Linked DNA regions of Homo sapiens. The protein of the gene in region 2 purifies or fractionates together with the protein of the main gene of each other region. This does not show direct contact. Each region holds a gene or a part of one and is shown on either strand. Other genes may lie near its edges.

Region 1 (4,240 bases), on a different chromosome or scaffold from region 2:
TCTGATTTTGATTGATGACAAATCCACAGACACTTCTAAGACTACTGTGGATGTGTTGCCCACATTCATAGGCCAAGGAAACGTTGTGTTTCAGTTAGAGCTTAGTGAAAATAAAGTTCACAGAATCTCTGAATTCTATTCAAGGACCCTTTGGAGGCCTGTAAACCCCAGGTGAAGCTCTGAAAGCCAAAAAAGAGAAGTGTTTCTGTAAAGTATATTTCACCAGATTACCTGGCAGCAACCAGAAAAGACAATTTAAGTTTCACTATTTACAGAACTTTATCATACAGACAAAGCTTTCTAAATTTCAGAACAACTGTTTTTAAAAAGAAATACTAGTCCGGGTGCGGTGGCTCAAGCCTGTAATCCTAGCACTTTGGGAGGCCAAGGCGGGTGATCTCCTGGGGTCCAGGAGTTGGAGTCCAGCCTGACGAACATGGCAAAATCCCGTCTCTACTAAAAATATAAAAATTAGTGGGGCGTGGTGGCGCGCGCCTGTAACCCCAGCTTACTCAGGAGGCTGAGGCAGAAGAATTGCTTGAACCCAGGAGACGGAGGTTGCAGTGAGCCGAGATCGCGCTACTGCACTCCAGCCCGGGCAACTTAGCAGATTCCATCAAGACAGACACACAAAAAGAGGCCAGGCGCGGTGGCTCACGCCTGTAATCCCAGCACTTTGGGAGGCCGAGGCGGACGGATCACAAGATCAGGAGATCGAGACCATCCTGGCTAACACGGTGAAACCCCGTCTCTACTAAAAATACAAAAATTAGCCAGGCGTGGTGGCGGGCGCCTGCAGTCCCAGCTACTCGGGAGGCTGAGGCAGGAGAATGGCGTGAACCCAGGAGGCGGAGTTTGCAGTAAACTGAGATCTGGCCACTGCACTCCAGCCTGAGCGACAGAGCGAGACTCTGTCTCAAAAAAAAAAAAAAAAAAAAAAGAAAGAAAATAAGACAGACAGAAAGACAGATAGTAGATGGAAAGAAAGACAGAAAGGAAAGAAAGACAGGAAGGAAGGAAAGGAAGGAAGGAAGGAAGGAGAAAAGAAAAGAAAAAGAAAGAAAACAGTCGTTTTGAAAAGAAAAAAAAATAACTGCCTATCTCCTATGATTCAAAAATGTTCACGGACTCTTGGCTACAAGAGATCAGTAACACTTTCAAAGAAGCCGTCCCTGACCAAAGGGAACACACACATACTTCATCCACCCACTGGAAACTGTATTATTCTTTGTCTACTCCACTAGATTTAAACATGAGGGTGAGGACTTATTCACCACTCTACCTCCAGCACTAAAAGAAGGCCTGACACACAGTGGACCCTTGACAAATATTAATATATATCAGATAAATGGATTAAAATATGTCACTTTAAAGTGTTTGCAAATCGAATTCCTGGAATCGGGACATCTACTGGTTGAGGCTTAACATCGATTTAGGATTAAATTTACTCCCTTACATTTATATATCATTTTACAAAATGCTTCTGCCCACGTTACCTCATTCAATCCTTCCTTCTGTAGTAAAGAAACTGGAAGATATATTTAGTAAACAATAAGGATTTTATAATTGGCTTAGAAGTTAGATAAAAGGGGCCTTTTTAAAAATCCATCCAAGGGTCATAAACCGATAAGCCAAAATAAAACGAATTTGTCTAGAAGTCAGTCATTATAACAGGATCTAGCCTCGTGGTCTGACTTCCACAGATTTGAGGAAGAGAAAAAAAGTTTATTTTCCAGACTCTCTTGGCTGGGGCGCCATTCTTTCACAGCTTCAGATAAACAGAAAGAAAAGGTAAACAACATGCGCCACTCTTAGGAAACTACCTCCCGGTCAAGTTGGGAAAGCCAGCAAAGGACTGCTGAAACACCCAAGTACTTCCGAACCAACTCCTGCGGGACTTCTCCCCATCTCTCCCGCCGCTGTCCTGCGGGCCCCGGGGCTTGCCTGACGCCGGGAAGTATTGTGAACCTTGTTTATGTCCCAGTGTCAGGGCCGCACAGTGATAGTAACATCTCGGGTATCGCGCGGCTTGCGTCCGGGACGGCCAGCTGGGTGCCCCGAGTCCTGGGGGACCCTAGTAGGGACAGATCCTCAGCCGAGCCCCTCCTGGAGCCCCCAACGGGCCCGAGGGGGATCCCGGCCAGGCTGCGGAAGAAGAGCCGCAGCCATGGCAGGCGGCGGTCCCCGGCAGGGCTGAGTGGGATCTGGAGACATTTTTTAATAACAGGAGCATTTTGTGCCTTTCAGGGTTTCTACAAAGTGGCCGCATTCCGGCCCCAAAGTCAGCAGGCCTGAAAGCGTGCAGGCAGGCGCGTGGGAAGGAGTTTACTTCCAATTTGAGCAACGGCTGCTCCAGAGGTTGGCAGAGCCCCATTCCACGGGGAAAGTGGTGGGTGCCGGGCGAAGCGCCGCGCATTCCCTCACACTCCCCGGGTGCAGCAGGCCTCGTGCCCTCCCCGGGGCCCCCAACCATTGGCCAGTCCACCCCCCCCCCGACAGGCTGAGGGCTCAGGAGTGGCACTATTTCGTTACCTCTCTGCGCGGAGGCGAGTGAGGAGGTGATGAGCCGGACGGCCGCCGCGCCGCAAGTACAAGCACCGCAGCTGGGCATCTCCGCGAGGCCTAGGCCGGGGCTTCGCCCCCTGAGGACCTCCGGGTCACAGCGGCGTGAATCCTGCCCGCAAGGCGCGCTGACTCGGTTCCGAACCCTTTCGCGGGCCCTAGACCCCGTGGAGAGTTCACCTGCCCGGCAGCCAGGCCTTCACGCTTCTCTGCCCCACAGCCGTCTATTCACCAGAGTAGACACCCAACCCCCCCCTCCCTTCCCCTCCTTCTCCTTCTACCCCCACCCCCAGCCTACTGGGCCCGGGGAGCTTGCGCGCGCCTGCGCCCTAGGCCCGGGGAGGGGGCGGAGGGCGTGGGCACGCGCCGTGTTTGCGAGCTGGTGAAGCTACGTGAGGCGAAGGCGAGGGGGTGGTGCCCTGGGCGCCAATGAGTTCCCTACGGCAAGCGTCTAGCCCCAACTGGGGCGACTACAGGTCCCGACGCTCAAGGTTGCCAAAAGCCCTTTTATCCTAAAGTTGAAAGGTTTTGCGATAGACGCGGAGAGATGCATGCCGGGACTTGTAGTCCCGAGTCGTCATAGTCGAGCTCTTCCGGTCACTTTTAGTGGGCGGCAGGGAAGGTCAAGGTGAGGCTGGTGGCTTAACCCTCCAGGGGGAAGTCTCTAAAGTGCCTTGGTAGGCGCTGGATGCTTCAGATTCACTAAATTTCTTCCCCCGGAATTCCACATCCTGTGTTCCTTATCTTCTCATTCTCCTTAGTTTCATCACTTGTAACATGGAGTTGGTATTGTCAGTTAGTTCCCTGAGCAGCAATTGTTAGTTGGTAACAGCTCCGTCTCCTTGTTCTTTCAGGCCTCGTGGTGATAAAGCTTCTAGCTGTTGCTAGTCCGTGGGTGCTTTAAAGTCTTGAGGGTTTTCTTTTCTTTCTTTCTTTTTTTTAATTTAGTAAAGATGAGGTCTCCCTATGTTGCCCAGGCTGGTCTCAAACTCCTGGGCTCAAGTGATCCTCTCGCCTCGCCCTCCCAAAGTGCTGGGATTACAGGCGTGAGCCACCGCACCCGGCCGTGATTAAGGATGGCACTGCATAGATAACCTCTGGTCAGGTTCCTATCAGGCCATCCTCTCAAGTTATGAATTCAAAAGCACAGAGCCGGCTGGGCGTGGTGGCTCACACCTGTAATCCCAGCACTTTGGGAGGCCGAGGCAGGTGGATCACGAGGTCAGGAGTTTGCGACCAGCCTGACCCACATGGTGAAACCCCATCTCTACTAAAAATACAAAAATTAGGTAGGTGTGGTGGCGTACTCCTGTAATCCCAGCTACTCAGGAGGCTGAGGTGGGAGAATTGCTTGAACCCAGGAGGCGAAGGTTGCAGTGAGCCGATATCGTGCCATTGCACTCCAGCCTGGGCGACAGAGCGAGACTCCGTCTCAAAAAAAAAAAAAAAAAACCCAGAGCCATCTGAGATTATCCCTGTGAGAAAATGGATCCTTCACCAGGAAAGTGATGGCAAATACTTGTGGTCACATCAGCCCTTCCACATCACACCTACTTTCAGCTGTTTTCTGACAGATTAATGACGCTTTAAAAAGAAAGTCAAGTGCAGTTTTCCAGCTCAAATAGTTTACACTGGAGGAGTTAACTCCTTGAGTTATTTACTTTTTGCGAACTACATA
Region 2 (3,500 bases):
CCACACGTGGTGGCTCACACCTCTAACCCTAGCACTTTGGGAGGCCAAGGTGGGTGGATCATGAGGTCAGGAGTTTGAGACCAGCCTGGCCATCATGGTGAAATCCCGTCTCTACTAAAAATACAAAAATTAGCCAGGTGCGGTGGTGCGTGCCTGTAATCCCAGCTACTTGGGAGGCTGAGGCAGGAGAATGGCTTGAACCTGGGAGGTGGAGGTTGCAGTGAGCCGAGATTGTGCTATTGTACTCCAGCCTGGGCAACAGAGTGAGACTCCGTCTCAAAAAAAAAAAAAAATACTCCCCATCCACGTGGAGCCTCCTGTGTATCCCGCCCTGATCACACCTCCCCCAGGTCCCCAGGGTCACCTCTTTCCTACAATCATTATTAAATTATTTCCTGAAATTCTCATTTATGCATTTCTATATTTTCTATGTATGTGTACAGCTGTAAACAATCTAGAGTAATGGTGTGCATATTTTCAAACTTCACAGAAGTGGTATTTACTGTCGTTCTCCTGCAACTTGTGCTTTTTGCCCAGCATGGTTTTGCGATTTATCCCTGTTGCCATGTGTCGCTCCAGCTCAGTCACTCATTTCACACTGCTGTGTAAGGACTTCGTTGCGTGAATCTATCACAGTGCATTTATCTGGCTGAGGAATACTGTGGTTGTTTCTGATTTTTTTTCCTTCTTTTTAAATATGTTTATTAGTTATAAACTCTGTTCTGACATTTTTTTTTTTTTTTGAGACAGGGTCTTGATCTGTTGCCCAGGCTGGAGTGCAGTGGCACGACCATGGCTTACTACAGCCTCAAACTCCCACGCTCAAGTGATCCTCCCGCCTCAGCCTCCTGGGTAGCTGGGACCACAGGTGCACCCCACCACACCTGGCTAAGTTTGAAACATTTTTTGTAGAGATAGGGTTTCACTACGTTGCCCAGACTGGTCTCGAACTACTGGGCTCCAGTGATCCTCCCACCTCAGCCTCCCAAAGTGCAGAGATTACATTAGTGAGTCATCTCACCTGGCCTGTTTCTAATTTTTGTGCTCAATGAACACCTGTAAGAATGTTTCTAGGGCAGTAGAGTTTGAACTGACCACAACCCACAGTAAGAAATTGTTTCTACTGGTGGCTGGGCGTGATGGCTCACACCTGTAATCCCAGCATTTTGGGAGGCTGAGGGGGGCGGATCACCTGAGGTCAGGAGTTCAAGATCAGACTGGCCAACATGGTGAAACCCCACCTATACTAAAAATACAAAATTAGCTGGGTGTGGTGGCGCACGCCTGTAGTCCCAGCTAGTTGGGAGGCTGAGGCAGGAGAATCACTTGAACCCAGGAGGTGGAGGTTGCAGTGAGTCGAGATTGTGCCACTGCACTCCAGCCTCCATTCTCAACAAGAGCAAAACTCTATCTCTAAACAAACAAATAAATAAAATTATATATATATATATATATATATATATATAGAGAGAGAGAGAGAGAGAGAGAGAGTTTCTACTGGGCGTTCATGCAAATGCACACAAAAACGTCAAACAAAAGTGTCCCAAGGCCAGGCGCAATGGCTCATGGCTGTAATCCCAGCACTTCGGGAGGCCAAGGCAGGCGGATCACCTGAGGTCAGGAGTTCGAGACCAGCCTGGCCAACATGGTGAAACCCCATCTCTACTAAAAATACAAAAATTAGCTGGGCGTGGTGGCAGGCACCTGTAATCCCAGCTACTTGGGAGGCTGAGGCAGGAGAATTGCTTGAACCTGGGAGGCGGAGGGTGCAGTGAGCCGAGATCACACCATTGCACTCCAGCCTGGGTGACAAGAGCGAGACTTCATCTCGGGGAAAAAAAAGAAAAGTGTCCCAAAATAATATGGATCCCTCCCATCTGTGACATACTGACATCATCTATTCCATAAAAAAAAAAAAAGTGCTGGTGGATCATGAGGTCAGGAGTTCAAGACTAGCCTGGCCAAAATGGTGAAACCTCATCTCTACTAAAGATACAAAAAATTAGCCAGGTGTGGTGGCGGGCACCTGTAATCCCAGCTACTTGGGAGGCTGAGGTGGGAGAATTTCTCGAACCCCAGAGGCAGAGGCTTCAGTGAGCTGAGATCGTGCCATTGCACTCCAGCCTGGGCAACAAGAGCAAAACTCTGTCTCAAAAAAAAAAAAAAGTCCTGTTGGAAACCAATAAATTGATGTCAGGACTCCTATCACTTGGAGTTGGGTAAACATATCCCTGGGGTATGAACCTAGGAGGGGACACAGGGTGTATGCACATTGTGGAGAAAGAAGAGGCAAGGGACTAGGGCTGGAGACTCCGTGGGGCCACAGGATGCTCAGCAAAGGGTTCAGACTTGATTCTGAGGGGGCTGTGAAGCTGTAGGAGGGATATCTTGACCAGATTTGTGCTTTAGAAAGACCCCTCTGGGGACAAAATGGGGATAGACCACTTTGGAAAACAGTTGGCAACCCCTGATAAAGGTAATGATGTATCCACCAACACTCAAGTCTGCAGGTCCAAACCTTCACTACAGGTCTTTGTACACCCCCTGCCCTCTGCTGGGAACACTCTGCTCTCTGGATGGTTGTCTCCTTTTCCCCTGTCCCATCTCAGCCTTTTTTTTTTTTTTAAATAGAGCCCAGGCTGGTTTTAAATTCCTGGCCTCAAGGGATCCTCCTGCCTCAGCATCCCAAAGTGCTGGAATTACAGGCATGAGCCACCATGCTCAGCCTCTGGTCTCAGCTTTTTTTTTTTTTCTTTGGTGAGACAGAGTCTCGCCCTGTCACCCAGGTTGGAGTGCAGTGGCATGATCTTGGTTCGCTGCAGCCTCGACCTCCTGGGCTCAAGCCATCCTCCCACCTCAGCCTCTCAGTGGCCTCAGCTTTAATGGCACTTGCTTTAAGAAGCCTCCCTTAATCCCTGCTCACCCCACAGTGAGTCAGGCACTTTCCCTGGGATCCCATAACTTCCTGTGCCTCCCCCAACTCCAGCCCCCACCCCTCTGCCTGTGCCTCCCCCATCCCGGTCCTGACCCATCTGGCCTGTGCTCCTCATTGTGGTTGGTACGAACCACTCTAGGTCATCGCTGTGTGGTGCCAGGTCCCCCCACTGGACTGGGCACTCTGAGAAGGCAAGGGTCAGGGATGTCTTTTTATTGCTGTCAAGAGGCAAGGGCAGGTGATGGTGTGTTCTGTATGGATGACGAGTGTGGTAGTGATGGCTAACTGCCTTCCAAAAGCTGTACTTCCCCTCTGTGCTGTCACATTGCCACCAGGAACCACTGCCTAGCCAGGGACTCCATTTTCCAGCATGCCTTGCACCTAGGCAGGCTATGTCACTAGCTCTCACTGATGGAATGGCAACGGAAGTGCTATGTCCATTGCCCCAGGATGAGCTTAGTGTATTTAGCCTGGGCATTACTTTTTCCACTTCTGGCCAAAGCAGTTAGGCAGGGGGCTACCCTCAACCTCTCTTACCCTTTCCTTGGGAAGCAGAGCGTTGCAA
Region 3 (2,552 bases), on a different chromosome or scaffold from region 2:
TAATAGCCCTATGAGCTTGATAAATTTGTTACTTTCACTTTATAGATGAGTAAATGGAGAAATAGATTAAGATGACTTGCACTAGGACACTAGGGTTTTTTTGGTTTTGTTTTTTGGGGGTTTTTTTGTTTTTGTTTTTGAGACAGTCTTGTGCTTGTCACCCAGGCTAGAGTGCAGTGGTGCAATCTCGGCTCACTGCAACCTCCGCCTCCCGGGTTCAAGCGATTCTCCTGCCTCAGCCTCCCGAGTAGCTGGGATTACAGCCACCTGCTACCATGCCTGGCTAATTTTTGTATTTTTAGTAGAGACAGGGTTTCACCATCTTGGCTTCCCAAAGTGCTGGGATTACAAGCGTAACCCGCCATGCCTGGCCCCGGCTAACTTTTGTATTTTTTGTAGAGACGGGATTTCACCATGTTGCCCAGGCTGGGACTGTTTCTGTTGACTCCCCCCTTACCCCTAGTTTTAGGTCACTTTTTTGCTGCTTTGCAAGTTTAGTGATTTTTTTTTTTTTTTAACTTCGATGCTGGACAGTGTGAATGTTAAGTGATGAATTTTATGGTCTTTCTTTAAAGAGTGTTGAATTTTGTCTTGGTAGGCAGCTAAGTTACTTGTGGATCAACTTGTTTTTAATTTTTTGTTTTTGTTTTTAAATTGTGAGATGGAGTTTCACTCTTGTTGCCTAGGTTGGAGAGCAATGGCACGATCTCGGCTCACTGCAACCTCTGCCCTCCCCCGGTTTAAATGATTCTCCTGCCTCAGCCGTCCGAGTAGCTGAGATTACAGGCAACTGCCACGATGCCCGGCTAATTTTTTGCAGTTGTAGAAGAGATGGGGTTTCACCATGTTGGCCAGGCTAGTCTCGAACTCCTGACCTCAGGTGATCCACCCGTCTGGGCTACCCACAGTGCTGGGATTACAGGTTTGAGCCACCGCGCCTGGCCGCTTTTAATCTTTATTAGGGCATGTCTAGGGTGGTCTATACTCTAGGACTGGTTTAGCCCTACTACTAAGATGTGAATTTTCTAGTATTCCTTCTGAATGTCCTGGTTTTTAGTGAGGCTTTTGCTCTCTGGCTAGTTGGCAATCACATTTTTCCCAGCTCTACTGAACTCTTAGAATTGTTCACTTTCTGGTAGGTGTTCTTTGCCTAGCTTTGTGGAATTTCTCACCCTAACACATGTAGCTTTAGCTTTCAGCCCAAGACTCAAGGAACACCTTGCAGATTTCTAGACCTCTTTATCTGTGTAGGTCCCCCTTCTCCAGTAGTCTGCTTTGCACACTGCAGCTGCCTTAGCTACCCTGAACTCTGATCTCTGCTGCCTTAACGTGATGGGACTGCTGTGCTCTGCTTGGGTTCTTCCTGCCTGCTCTGCTGCCTGGGACGTGCCTCTAGGTGGTAAGCTTAGGCAGTTGTCAGGCTCACATAGGCTGCACTCAAGTGTCACAGTTCTGGGCTGCTTTTGACTAGTGTCTGAAAACAGTTTTTTCGTATATTTTATGGAGATTTCTAATTACAATGAGAGGGCAGCTTTAGGAATGATTACTTCATCATAGGCCTATGTTGTTTAGTATTAAGTATAGGAAAATAATTGTGTCTCTGTCCAGTTGAATGGTAATATATTTTAAGACAGCAACTTAAAATTTTAAGATAGTCCGCTAGAACTTTCTTTGATGATGAAAATGTTCTGTTCCTGTGGGGTGTAGCCACTGGCCATACGTCACTATTGTATACGTGAAATGTGGCTAGTGCCACTGAAGAGATGAATTTTTAAATTAATTTAAATAGCTCTATGTGGGTAATGGCTCCTGTAATGGACAGTGTGGCTGAAGGTTTTCTCTCAGTATTAGAAAATCTCGACCTTACAACGTTTGCATTTAAAAAAGATGCCTGTGGTTGATCTTTAACATATTCTAATTTAGAAAAATATAGTTTTTTTAAGTATAAAAATAGTTGCATGTTCATTGGAGATCATTTGGAAAATGCAGAAAGCACAAAAAAAGTTGAGCACACATAATCCCAAAGATAAGTAAGATTAATATTTTGGTGTATTTCCTTCCAGTTTTCTATAAAGAAGAACCCACTTTAGTGAAAAATCGTTTGGTTTTATTTTAAATATTTCTCTCTCAAAAGGAAATATGTATGGATGGCAAGGTTAAAATTGTGAAAATTTGTATCCTTCCAGAATTAGCTTTATATTGTTATCAAATAATAGCATGGCCTAAACAGGCTTTCCTACCTCTATAGGCTGTATATGTGTAGCAGTTTCAGGAATAACATATTAATCAGGAAGCTTTTTTTTTTAGTCTATTAGTTGCAGACTGGTGTTTAATAGAAAACTTATTTGGCTATTGGCTGCTTTTTGACTTCAGCTGGAAGGAAGCTCAAACATAATATTTGGCTCATTTCCACATAAGACTAAGGGTTACTGACTCTGGTCTGAAGACTGCTTGCAGTTTAGTCGTCTGAGTGACTCCTGTGGCTGAGGATGTGCTGGGTGCTTAGAATCCAAAGGTCTGGCTAGGCTTAAGGGGTTCATGGTCTAGTTAGG
Region 4 (3,500 bases), about 33 Mb from region 2:
GTCTTGATCTGTCACCCAGGCTGGAGTGCTGTGCTGCGATGACTCACTGCAGCCTTGACCTCGTGAGCTCAAGTGATCCTCCCACCTCAGCCTCCCTAATAGCTGGGACAACAGGTGCCTGCCTCCATGCTTGGCTCTTTTTTTTTTTTTTTTTTTTTTGGAGACAGAATCTTGCTCTGTTGCCCAGGCTGAAGTGCAGTGGCGCGACCTCAGCTCACTGTAACCTCCACCTCCCGGATTTAAGCAATTCTACTGCCTCAGCCTCCCCAGTAGCTGGGATTACAGACATGCACCAGCATGCCTGGCTAACTTTTTATTTTAGTAGAGATGGGGTTTCACCATGTTGCCCAGGCTGGTCTCGAACTCTTGAGCTCAGGCAATCGCCTGCCTTGGCATCCCAAAGTGCTGGGATTACAGGCATGAGCCACCGCACCCTGCCACTTGGCTCATTTTAAATGTTTTTGTAGAGACGGGATCTTGCTATGTTTCCCAGGCTAGTCTTGAATGCTTGGGCTCAAGCAATCTCCCGCCTTGGGCTGCTGGGATTGAAAGCATAGGCCACCGTGCCCAGACCTAACCAAAATTATTTTAAGATTGGAGGGAAAAAAAAGGCCCAGTAAAATTGGCAGCTTTGTGATCTCTCACAGGCCCAGGGGACACCCCCAACCAGCCATCTCTTAGACACCAGCCCAGAGAAGGATTCTCCCTAACAAAGTTTACAGTCTGGGAGCAAAGGACTGGCGGGTGACCCGGTGTCCAGCCTGAGAGCCCAGATGTGTCACATGCTGAGGAATGGAAAGGGGCAGGGGGGGATGTCAGGCTCTCGGAGGGTGAGACGTGAGGATTCCCCCACCGGGAGCCCAGGTCCTGCCTGTTGGGAGCTACCCCAACGGAGCCACCGAAGTGGAACTTCTCCATGGTGATTTTTTAGGCCTTAAAAAAAAAAAAAGAAAAAGAAAGGAAGTACTCACAGCTTCATAGCACCAGTCTTTGAGAATGTCAAGCTCTCCAGAAATCATGGCCTAAAAAGGAAGGGAAAATAAGCACCAGAACGAGAGTGGGCTTTTCAGGCAGCAGGCGAGGTCCTGGGAACATTCTCCAGTGGTGCGGGGTGGGGAGTTTCCTCAGACACCCCCGGCTGCCACCTGTGGGGCGCGGGTGGAGCTGTGGCACTGGGTGTCCCCCCCAGGCCCGTCCCTGCTGGTGTCAGTGCCTGGCTCTGGCCTAGGCACAGGCGGAGGGCGGCCTGCGGGCGACCACCCAGGAGGCACCCCACAGGGGGACCCCCCTGGAACCTGGTGGAGGAAGAGAAAGGTGGCTGGGGACCCAGCTTTCAGCCTGGTCAGGAATCCAAGCCAGGGAGATGAGGACCCAACTCCGGCTCCCGCAGTGAGCCCATGTCCTCTGTCCCCCCAGGGGACCACATTTCGGACTGCAAGGCCCACCATGGGACCGGCTGCCTCCTAACTGCTGGGGGCAGCGAGAGGGAGGGGTGGGCTGCAGGGGGCGTGCCTGGGCTGGGAGCTGCTTCCACAGGATCCTGGAGCCTGGGCCGGATCCGATGAGGGGGAGGGAGGTGCCTGGAGCGGGGAGAAGAGCGGGAAGGAGCCGGATGCTGGTGGTGAAAGCTGTGAGCGGCAGGGGGCGGGTGGCCAGAACACTTGGCACCCATCACCCATCCCGGAAGGCACTGCGGTGCTCAGGCTGCTGTTTTGGGGCATGGCGCCCATCCGCACCACCTCCCAGCCCTGCCCGAAGTGGCGGGAAGGATACGGGAAACTGGAGGAGGAAGAGGACGTTGGGCGGAGGCCGGCGGGGCCAAGGATGGAGAGTCCCATGAAGGGCCTTCCAGAGGCCTGGCCCGACTGGGCCGAAGGTGTCCAGGCTCCTCCTGCATCCTGGGGGCTGCAGAGAGGCAGAGGCAGCAGGGAAGACAAGAGGCCACCAACCTCAGGGAGAGGCTTATAGGGGGCAGGCTGCAGCATGACCTTGAGCAAGATACCCTCATCTATAAGCCCAACAAGGGTCTGGTTGCCAGGGACAGCACCGTGAGGGAACCTCACGGCTGCAGCTCTGGGTCAGACGTGGCCTGGGGCCAGCTCTGATGTCTGAAGACAGACGCCCACTTCTCCCAAGGGGTGAGGGGCTCCAGGCACCTGAGACAATCCCTAGCCTCCAGCAGCTGCTCCCAGCAACCTCAAAGGAACAACAGCCTCAGGCAGGAGGAGTGAGGGAAACAGACCTGGAGGTACCGGAGGTGCCGGTAAGGCCCAGGAAGGGCTTCGGGCACAGCTCATGGGGCAGCTGCAGCCGGGCAGGAGCCCGTGTGCAACCAGCCTCCTCAGAAAACAGCCTCGGCAGCAGAGTTCCCTGGCAGCACCCAGGGTGCCGGCTGCGGCGGGGGAGGTGGTGGAGCCAGGACCTGCCGCCTGGGAGGGGTCCTGGGGGTGTGGCACCCACCTCCAGGACATTGGGGATGATGTCGTTCTCGCACTGTTTCAGAAACCGGTCCTTGTCAAAGGCCGGGTCCACCCGGAGGATCTCCGTGAGCACCTCCGACATCTCTGTCTTGGAGAACAGGCCCCCTGCAGGGAGCAGAGCCGGGAGTTCGGGGGGAAGGCCGGGGACCCCGCCCCACCACCAGCCTGCGAGGTCCAGGGATGACTCACTCACCCAGCAAGTCGGTGACCTTGTCCGTAAGGGCCCGGGATGCCCGGATGAACGCGTTGTCGCTTTCGTCATACTTCATCTTCATCTCGAAGAACCCTGTGGAAGATGGGGTAGGTGCTGGAGAAGGGGCCCCTTCCAGAAACACAACCCTCCCTCACAGCTTCTAGAGGCTCCCTGTGACCCCTGCGGGATCCACCCTGACACGGGTGGGGTCAGGGAGGGGACGGCTGTGGACCTGCATCCTCATCTGTGCTTGGGGACCGCTGCCTGCCCACCTACCTGGCCAGGCGCAGAGGCCCCTCAGCTGCGGCCCTAATGGGGCTGTGTAAGTTATGGGCCGCCACCCCACTGGCTGTTGCTTTCACTACAAAGGAAACACAGGCCTCTAGCAGTCCTCACAGGACAAGGGACAGGGGCCTGCGGCTCGTTTCGGGGCCCTGACTGTGCTTATGAGGGAGCACCTGGCTTCTGGCGGCAGAATCTACAGCCCCACCATCATGTGACCGCAAAGAAGTGACCGGCCCACTCTGACCCCGATCTCCTCCTCTGCAAAACGGGGCTGTCTTGTGCCCAATGCAGGGGGATCACCTTGCGGTCCACCAACTGCCCGGGACACAGTCACCTGCCCTCCAAGACACCTTCACTCACGGTTAAACACCACGTTGTTCTCCTTGAAGTCCTTCCACTGCTGGTACCACTTGGAGTCCTTGTGCAGCACGACCCCCAGGGCCTCCCTGGGGAAGAGGGTGGGCCCTGGGGTGAGCGGCGGCGCCAGGGCCACCCTGTGCCCTCCTGCGGCTGCAGGCAGGGGGCAGTACAGGACAGCAGGC

What was found. The genes of interacting proteins can lie anywhere in the genome.
Region 1: the proteins of COQ8B (region 2) and CLPX purify together in Homo sapiens (co-immunoprecipitation; one large-scale study listed by IntAct). This does not show direct contact.
Region 3: the proteins of COQ8B (region 2) and GOLPH3 purify together in Homo sapiens (affinity purification with mass spectrometry; one large-scale study listed by BioGRID and IntAct). This does not show direct contact.
Region 4: the proteins of COQ8B (region 2) and TIMM44 purify together in Homo sapiens (affinity purification with mass spectrometry; one large-scale study listed by BioGRID and IntAct). This does not show direct contact.

The regions. Positions count from the first base shown.
Region 1 is NC_000015.10:65,182,543-65,186,782, forward strand, and holds the start of CLPX (ATP-dependent clpX-like chaperone, mitochondrial precursor), read right to left. Parts: upstream 2,801-4,240; 5' UTR 2,612-2,800; coding exon 2,533-2,611; intron 1-2,532. UniProt on the Homo sapiens protein: ATP-dependent chaperone that functions as an unfoldase.
Region 2 is NC_000019.10:40,696,387-40,699,886, forward strand, and holds part of COQ8B (atypical kinase COQ8B, mitochondrial), read right to left. Parts: intron 1-3,500.
Region 3 is NC_000005.10:32,126,768-32,129,319, reverse strand, and holds part of GOLPH3 (Golgi phosphoprotein 3), read left to right. Parts: intron 1-2,552. UniProt on the Homo sapiens protein: Phosphatidylinositol-4-phosphate-binding protein that links Golgi membranes to the cytoskeleton and may participate in the tensile force required for vesicle budding from the Golgi.
Region 4 is NC_000019.10:7,930,167-7,933,666, forward strand, and holds part of TIMM44 (mitochondrial import inner membrane translocase subunit TIM44), read right to left. Parts: intron 3,405-3,500; coding exon 3,319-3,404; intron 2,767-3,318; coding exon 2,674-2,766; intron 2,586-2,673; coding exon 2,461-2,585; intron 1,023-2,460; coding exon 972-1,022; intron 1-971. UniProt on the Homo sapiens protein: Essential component of the PAM complex, a complex required for the translocation of transit peptide-containing proteins from the inner membrane into the mitochondrial matrix in an ATP-dependent manner.